2 linked regions of the Homo sapiens genome follow. The protein of the gene in region 1 interacts with the protein of each later gene in a pairwise test. Each region holds a gene or a part of one and is shown on either strand. Other genes may lie near its edges.

Region 1 (4,372 bases):
GTTCAAGCGATTCTTCTGCCTCAGCCTCCTGAGTAGCTGGGACTACAGGCACGTGCCACCAACGCTCGGCTAATTTTTGTATTTGTTCTTTTTTAGTAAAGACGGGGTTTCGCCATGTTGGCCAGATTGGTCCCGAACTCCTGACCTCAGGGGATCCACCCGCCTCGGCCTCCCAAAGTGCTGGGATTACAGGCGTGAGCCACTGCGCCCGGCCTTGGCTGAGTTTTTATTAGATCTGAGCCGTTCAATTTCAATAGTTTAGGATCCAACCTCACTCTCAGGCAAAGAATAGAGGAAATGATACCAACGTATTTATCTGTCAATAAACACTTGGTGATTTGAATATGGTTAAGGGATTCCTGTAGTTTGCCCCCCTTAAAACTGAACTTTGTCCAAACCTGTTCTAAATATGTGTGTGCGTGTGCATGCATCTGGGTGTTGGGGAGGAGCGGTCGTAAAGTTCCTTTTAAATTTCACCTATGGGGGACTACTTCCCACCTCATCCTATGAAGTCAACATTAGCCTAAATACCAAAGCCAGATTAAGACACTACAAGAAAACTACGAAACAATATCTCTCACGAACACAGATGCAGAACTTCTAGACAAAACGTTTCCAAATTGAAGCGAAGACCATATTAAAAGGACAAAAGCACCTCAGTGGTTGCTTGGGGACTGGGGGAGGGGCTGGATTACTATCTTGGCTGTGGTGTCGAAAACCTATCAAATTGTTCACTTTAAATATGTGCAGTTTATTGTATCCCAACCATTCCTCAACAAAGCTGTTTTTCAGAAACATTTGTCCATGTAGTTTTGCCTTTGAATGGTTGGGTCAATGAAGAGAAAAACGAGTGAAAACAGGGAATCATGACACTTTGTTTTTTTACGTGTAAATATTCGCAAAACGCCCAAACTGGTAACTTTGGGAACACGGGTTCACGCAGAAGAAGGGCTGCTGTCTGGGGAGGACTGAAACTCGGGTTCCCGAAGTCGGGCTGCTCTGGGGCCACGGAGAGAAGGGGAGAGAACGTCGAGGAAGAGGCAGAGCTCAAGTGGACGGAGGATGGAACACAGAGCGCGGCCGGGACAAAGGGGCAGGCCAGACAGCCGTGACAGAGAAACTAGGCGGTCCGCTCCTGGGACGCGGTCTCGGGGGCGGGTTCGCCCCTGAGGCCCGGTGACCCTTCGCCCGCAACCAGGGCTAGCGCTTGTGTGCGCCCACGGAAGCACCCGAGCGACCGGAGAAAGAAAAAGTGGTCAAGGGGACCTCCTTCCAGCTCTACGCGCCTCTCATTCAGAGAGGTGAGGTCAGGAAAGGGGAAGGACGAAGCCCCAGAGCAACAGAAGTCAGGCGGTGCCAGGAACACTGAGAGCGGAGCCAGGGGAAGGCGGCCGAGCGCGGCCCCCTCTCCTCCCGGGCCGGGGCGGGCCCGAGGCCTCGATCCGCCTTCCCCGCGCCGTCCTGGTCACGGCCCCGCGGGGCAGCCATGCCTGGCCGTCTGCTGCGGGGCCTGTGGCAGCGATGGCGCCGTTACAAGTACCGCTTCGTTCCCTGGATCGCACTGAACCTAAGCCACAACCCGAGGTGAGAGGGCGGGACGGCAGAACGAGGGGCACCTGCCTTCGGTTCCCAGACGCCACCACGGCGGCGGGACGCAAAGCGGAGAGCCTGAGGCTGACTGCCGGCCTGAGATGGGCGGGCCCGGGTGGGCAGGGACTGAGGTGGGCGGGCCGGGTGGGCGGGGACTGAGGCCTCGGAGGGGTTTAAGGAACGCGGGCCAGAGGCGGGCGGGGCCGAGGTTGGTGGAGTCCGAGGCCCGCTGGAAGCCTGAAGTGGGCGGTGGCTTCAGGTGGGCGGGGCCTATGGCCTCTTTCCCAGTGTCCGCTGCGCTGCCGGGCCCGCGAGGCCGAGCTCGCCAGCCGGATGTGTCGCCTGTTCTTCCCTGTTGCGTTCGGCACTGACTGGGGAGCTTGTATCTGGGCAAAAATGGAAACTTTTTAAAAAGACTGCCCTTACCGCGTGAGAGTGCGTGGCTTTTTCTCCACCAGGGGTTAATTAGGTGCTTGAACTTCCTCAGAAAAGCCAAGCCAGGGTTTATTTTCATAGTTCATACAAGTACTTCACGTGGTTAAAGAAGCCCATCCCGGCTGTGAGAATAGCGTGCAGTAGCTCGCGCGTTAAGAACGGGCAGAACGCCACTCAAAAGCACGTCGGGATGGTGGGTTTCGGATTGGGGTGAGTCCCGCCGGCGTTATTAAGGGCGCACCAGTGATCAGCTCAACACCGTGCTCACCAAAGAGGCCGACCGGGCCTCCCTGAAGTCAGTGTCCGACAAATAGGGAAACAAAGCGGTTTCCGGAAGGTTGCATGCTAGGGAAACAGGAGATCAGTTGTATCATGACTCGGAACCGTGAGGCGGGAATTACAACCTTTTTGTTCAAGTAAAAATAATGCAGTTAGTACAAAAAGATAATGATTATGGAAATAAGAGGTGCAGTCATTGAAGACGTTAGTCGTCCTGGAGGGAGTGTCACAAAGTATACGATGTTGAATTTGTCTTTGAAACTACAAGGCCATTTTTAAAAAGCCATTGAATGTGAGGTCATTCATTCTCATTGTGATGACATTCAGCTTGGCTGTTGGGTGTAGTACGGGAAAGAGCTGAACTTCGTTTCTGCCTCTGGCTCTCCCACTTACTGGCTTTGGGACCTTGAACAAGTTCCCTAACAATTTTGCTTTCCTTGTCTGCAAAAATGGAATAATGTAAGGACCCCACAGCATGTGGTATAGAATGGGCCTTTCATAAGTACTGACTACTTGGGTGGGAAGTGTTGGGAGTTAGCTAACTAGAACTCCCTCAAACAATTCTTTTCTGAACTTAGTTTCCAGCCCTCCACACACATGAGAATAAGCTTATAGTTCCTTAAGGCCAGGAACCCAGAAGTTATGCAGGTAAGTTTGGCTTTTATCAGTTGAAGGGTAGTGAATAGAAACTTTTCCCATTTTCAGGACCCTCCGATATGTTCCAGAGGAATCCAAAGACAAAGTTATCTCAGATGAAGATGTCCTAGGAACATTACTGAAAGTTTTCCAGGCTCTATTCTTAAATGATTTCAATAAACAATCAGAAATCTTGTCTATGCTTCCAGAATCTGTTAAATCAAAATATCAAGACCTACTGGCAGTTGAACATCAAGGGGTGAAACTGCTTGAAAACAGACATCAACAGCAAAGTACCTTTAAACCAGAAGAAATTCTTTACAAGACTTTGGGTTTCAGTGTTGCCCAAGCAACTAGCTCATTGATTTCTGCTGGAAAAGGTGTCTTCGTTACTAAAGGATTGGTACCAAAAGGCGCAGTCGTATCTATGTATCCTGGTAACAGCACGATTAATATTATACTTTGCCAAGCTTCTTACGTATTGATAAACATAAGTTCAGTAACATACCCAGCCTTGCAATCCTTAGAGTAAGGGATTAAATTGGAAACTCGAGTTTCCATAGATTTTTGCAATTCTAATTCGGAAATTAACTGTTTGTAAATTGTTTTGTGTTAGAAAGTATCCTGGAGTATTTGTTGGGATAAATGCACTTTTTCTTTCAAGGAAAGCTTTCCTGTCAACGTTTAAATTTAGAACATAGTATGACCCACTTTGACAAATTACTTAAAAAGCACTAGAGAAACATGTCAGTTTGGTTTAATTGATAGCTAAGGATAAAAATGGTATGGATAGGCTCACGCCGGTAATCCCAGCACTTTGGGAGGCCGAGGCGGGCAGATCGCGAGGGGTTTGAGACCAGTCTGGCCAACATAGTGAAACCCTGTCTCTACTGAAAATACAAGAAATTAGCCAGGTGTGGTGGTGTGCACCTGTAATCCCAGCTATTCAGGAGGTTGAGGCAGGAGAATGGCGTGAACCCGGGAGGCGGAGGTTGCAGTGAGCCGAGATTGTGCCATTGCGCTCCAGCCTGGGTGACAGTGCTAGGCTCCATCTCAAAAAAAAGAAAAAAAAAAAGCGTACGGATCAAAACATAAAAGACAACATTTAAACCCATAAGTCACCGAATGAAGACCTTCCTGCCCTTTCTACACTTGGAAAGTAAGGCAATTTCTTGGCACAAGATCATTAACTAGAATGCTAAATAGACTACGTTATGTGTTAAACTAACATTATATTATTTGGTATAGTGGAAAGTGTGTGTGTGAATATTTGAGTCAGATAGACCCAGGTTTTTAAAAATTCATTCTCCTGTTTTCTAATTTTACATCCCCAAACAAGGGAGTTTCAGTTTCCTGCTGTACGAGTAATCTAATTTTGTAAAGACTAAATAGAATAAATAAATTAATACTAAAAGAAGTTTAATAAATAGAT
Region 2 (3,810 bases), on another chromosome or scaffold:
CCTGCCTCAGCCTCACGAGTAGCTGGGATTACAGGCATGTGCCACCACACCCGGCTAATTGTTTTGTATTTTTTTTTAGTAGAGACGGGGTTTCATCGTGTTAGCCAGGATGGTCTTGATCTCCTGACCTCATGATCCGCCCACCTCGGCCTCCCAAAGTGCTGGAATTACAGTCATAAGCCACCGTGCCTGGCCCATTTTATGCCTTTCTAAATAAGCTTATGAGATACAAGAACATGAATGAGCTTATGAGATACAAGAAAAACCTTTAGAAGGACATGAAATGTAAAAATGGCAAAAATCAGTTATTCAAACTCAGCCATATTTGTATTTACAAAATAAGTCATTTTATAGAATTACCCATTAAGAATGGGAAACAGGAACAAAAAAGGGATTTCAAGGCTTTTTTTTTTCTTTTTTTGAAAAAACCAAAAAAAGCAGAAGCAAAATGGAAGTTGCTGTGGTGGCTGGTGCTCTCTCCTGGGCTCAAGGTCTTGGAGACCTCCCTGCCATAGTTGATAAAGCGTGGAACGCTGGAGACCTGAGCTGGGTGCTGGCAGGATTTGAATGGTGGACTCCAGGGATCTTTTGGCCGTGAAGATCTGTTTCCAATTGCATCTCATAAGCTCATTCATGTTCTTGTATCTCACAAGCTTATTTAGAAGGGCATTTCGTGAGATACAAGAACCCCAAACCAGAAATCAAGGAAGTTTTTCTCTTCAGTGCTCTGTGCATGTTAAGCCAGTACAGGATTTCATCCAAAATCCCACAAAACGATTCTGTTAAAATGGGGCACAGGCAAATACTTGAGTGGTAAGGGCCCCTCCAACAGTTGAATGGACATTACTGCTGCACCTTACACCCACCCTGCAGCATCAGAGGGGATACAGTGTTTTCAAAGGAACGGTGTCAGCCACTGCAGGTGAGAGTGTAAATTCCACCCCTGCTCCTTTAGGGCAACCTGTGAGCAGCTATTACAAAGCAATTGGTGAGACGCAGCATGGAAGTCTGGTGTTTATGGCTGAGTTGATCCACTGGGCTTCGAAGCTGGAAGTAACTGGGACCCTGGGGAAGGTTAAGTCCAAGGCCCTCCCAGAGTGAGGGCTGGAAAGAACTGAGGAGCCTGGTCCCTTGTCCTGGTTTCTGTCTAATTGAAGGTGTTATAATGGGGCTTGTGTTTCCTACTTATGTTCCAGTGGACTATGGCCTAGAGACCTGGGAGTGGGGAACTCCAGGATGCATGGCTGGGAACAGTCAACATAGTGAAGAGCTCTGTGGTTGGCAGCTGGGTCAAATCCAGTTTCAGCTACTTTTTTAAAATTTTATTATTATATTATTATTATGCTTTAAGTTTTAGGGTACATGTGCACAACGTGCAGGTTTGTTACATATATATACACGTGCCATGTTGGTGTGCTGCACCCATTAACTCGTTTTGCTACTTTCTATCTGTGTGACCTCGGATAAGTCCCTTAACCTCTTTTGAGAGTGGCAAGTACTGGCAAATCAGTTAATATCTGGCCAGATGCTGCCACAGGATTCTGGACTAGGGGCTTGGGACTCAGGTGAGGGTTTTGATCTTTGTGCTGCTGCTGGTCTACATGACTTTGATCAAGTAATGTGACCTCTTGGGATTTCAGTTTTCCGCTGCCGTATTTCCCATTGAGATAAATGAGACGAACCAGACACAACAGGTGCTTGGCACCTGGGGAAGGGCCCAATAAATGGCTGCTTAACAAGGATGAAATGGACCATGGGGGCACCTTGTTCATCCCTTTGTCCTGGCTAATGATCAGGAGGTCATTTTGGGTTTCTCCTGATAAGGTAAGATGCACATTAACTCTCAGCAGGGTTTTTTTTTAGCATACTCTGTTCTGCCTCCTAGCCTTTGCTTAAACTTAAAGCCAGTTCCTCCTGCTTCATCTTTTTTGAAAGATTGAGTTCAGATGCCTGCTTTTTTCCCCTGAAAGCTTTTTCTGAGCCCTTTAAGTGCCTAGCCACACTCCAGATTAAATTTAGGATTCCTTCTTGCTGCTCTCTGCCCGCCGTGCCCCCAGTGCATGCTTCTGCTGCTGCACTTGTAACTACATTAGAATTCTCAGTTGATTAGTCTGTTTCCCCATGGGCAGAGAGCAGGTGTAATTATCTCCTGCTGCTGGCATGGCTGACCGAGGAGGTCCCTTTGGTATGGGTGTGCAGTAGAGGGAGGTGGGGGCAAAGGGCAAATCCTGGGCCCCTCCCCATTCCCCTCATTTGCATCCTAGTCCCCACCTCAGTGCCTGGCATAGAGTTGACATTTGATTAATGCCTTCCCCAATGGCTGATTAATGCTAACTGAGACCCTGGTAAATGCTGCAGGCTGTGCATACATTGTAGCTTTTTGTCTTCCCAGCTGCCCCTTGTGGGCATTTAACCTCCATTTTACAGATGAGGGAACCGAGCCACAGATTTAGAGCAGCTTGGCAGAAGGCTGAGCCCGGCTGGAAGCACAGACAGCCCTGGCTGAACACCAGCCTCTCACTCCTCCTTCTTTGGATCCTGGGAGGGTCTCTCTAGTGCTACTCTGTAACCTTGAGAGCTACAGAGTAACAACTCCAGGCACCTCCAGGGACTTGGAGGGAAAGGAGGAGATAAGAAACAGAACAAATAATGGTAATTTTAACAATAGCTTAATCTAAGGAGTGCTGACTTTGTATCATTGTTTTAAGGGCCTGAGATACATTATCTTGTTTAAGCCTTACAAAAACATTTAGATGGTGGATACTGTTACCTTCTTTTATGGGACTGGAAATGAGCCCAGAGGATCTAAGTGACTTCTTGCAGCCTAGCTGGCAAGGGGGTCCCTGGTGGTTCAGCTCCAGGGCCTGGGGAGCGCCTTCACTCTAAGTCCTATTTTGGGGGCAGGCAATGTGTTTCTGGGGATTTGGGAGGCAGAATGAGGGAATGGTACAGAGTGAGGGCTCAGGGAGGGACTAAGGGATTTTGAGCAGAGGAGTGACATGATTTGATTCATGTTCTAAAAGGATCCTTCTGGCTCTGCATCTGAGAATTGACCCTAGCAGGTCAGGGAAGAAGTGGGGAGAGCAGGATTAGAATAGTTCAAGTATGAGATCCTAGGAGGAGCCGGTGAAAGGGTGAGATGCGTTGGAAGTGGTCGTGAGAGAGTCCACGCAAGGATTCCTCCAAGGTTTTGGGCCCAAGCACCTCTCTGACACTGACCACCCACAAGCATAAACAGCAATCAAGGACACCTCCTAGGTGCTGGCCGTCACCCCAGGTGCTTTGCTGGGGCATTTCTGAACACTCCCATTTTAAAAAGGCTAAAACTGAGGCACAGAGAGGTCAAGCAGTCTACCCAGAGCTACACAGTCAGCAGGAACCTTCTCTAGGGTTTGAACGTGAAGCTGCCAAGACCTGACATTTCCTGCCTTTCATCCTCATTTCTATGCAGAGGAACCATTTGCCAAAGTCTCCATGGATGATTCTGAAGGTTTAGTTTGTTTTTCGTTTATTTCATTTTTTTTTTTTTTTTGTTCTTAATTTTGCTCAGGAATAAAGAGATGGTTAGAAATCTCTAGACAGGATAGAGAAGGATGTTGGAGATTAGGGGTGAGAGGTGGGAGCCAGGCTGGGCTGCTTTGGCTATTCAAATATTCTTTAGGATAAGAGTGGGTGGGGAGAGAGGGGACTCACTGCCAGGTCAGGGTGATTTGGTTATTCAAAGCCCACGTAACGGTTGGGTCCTTGAGGTCAGGGGCTCTTCTCACACTTCAGTTTCCATTTAAACCTTTGTGTCCTGCCTTAGCTCTC

The links.
Region 2: the proteins of SETD9 (region 1) and PLCG2 interact in a two-hybrid assay, tested with the Homo sapiens proteins (one large-scale study listed by BioGRID and IntAct).

What each region holds. Positions count from the first base shown.
Region 1 is NC_000005.10:56,908,160-56,912,531, forward strand, and holds the start of SETD9 (SET domain-containing protein 9), read left to right. Parts: upstream 1-1,436; 5' UTR 1,437-1,486; coding exon 1,487-1,584; intron 1,585-1,897; exon of another isoform or gene 1,898-2,215; coding exon of another isoform or gene 2,216-2,235; intron 2,236-2,266; exon of another isoform or gene 2,267-2,761; coding exon of another isoform or gene 2,762-2,763; intron 2,764-3,009; coding exon 3,010-3,377; exon of another isoform or gene 3,378-4,065; coding exon of another isoform or gene 4,066-4,099; intron 4,100-4,372.
Region 2 is NC_000016.10:81,781,981-81,785,790, forward strand, and holds part of PLCG2 (1-phosphatidylinositol 4,5-bisphosphate phosphodiesterase gamma-2), read left to right. Parts: intron 1-3,810. UniProt on the Homo sapiens protein: The production of the second messenger molecules diacylglycerol (DAG) and inositol 1,4,5-trisphosphate (IP3) is mediated by activated phosphatidylinositol-specific phospholipase C enzymes. It is a crucial enzyme in transmembrane signaling.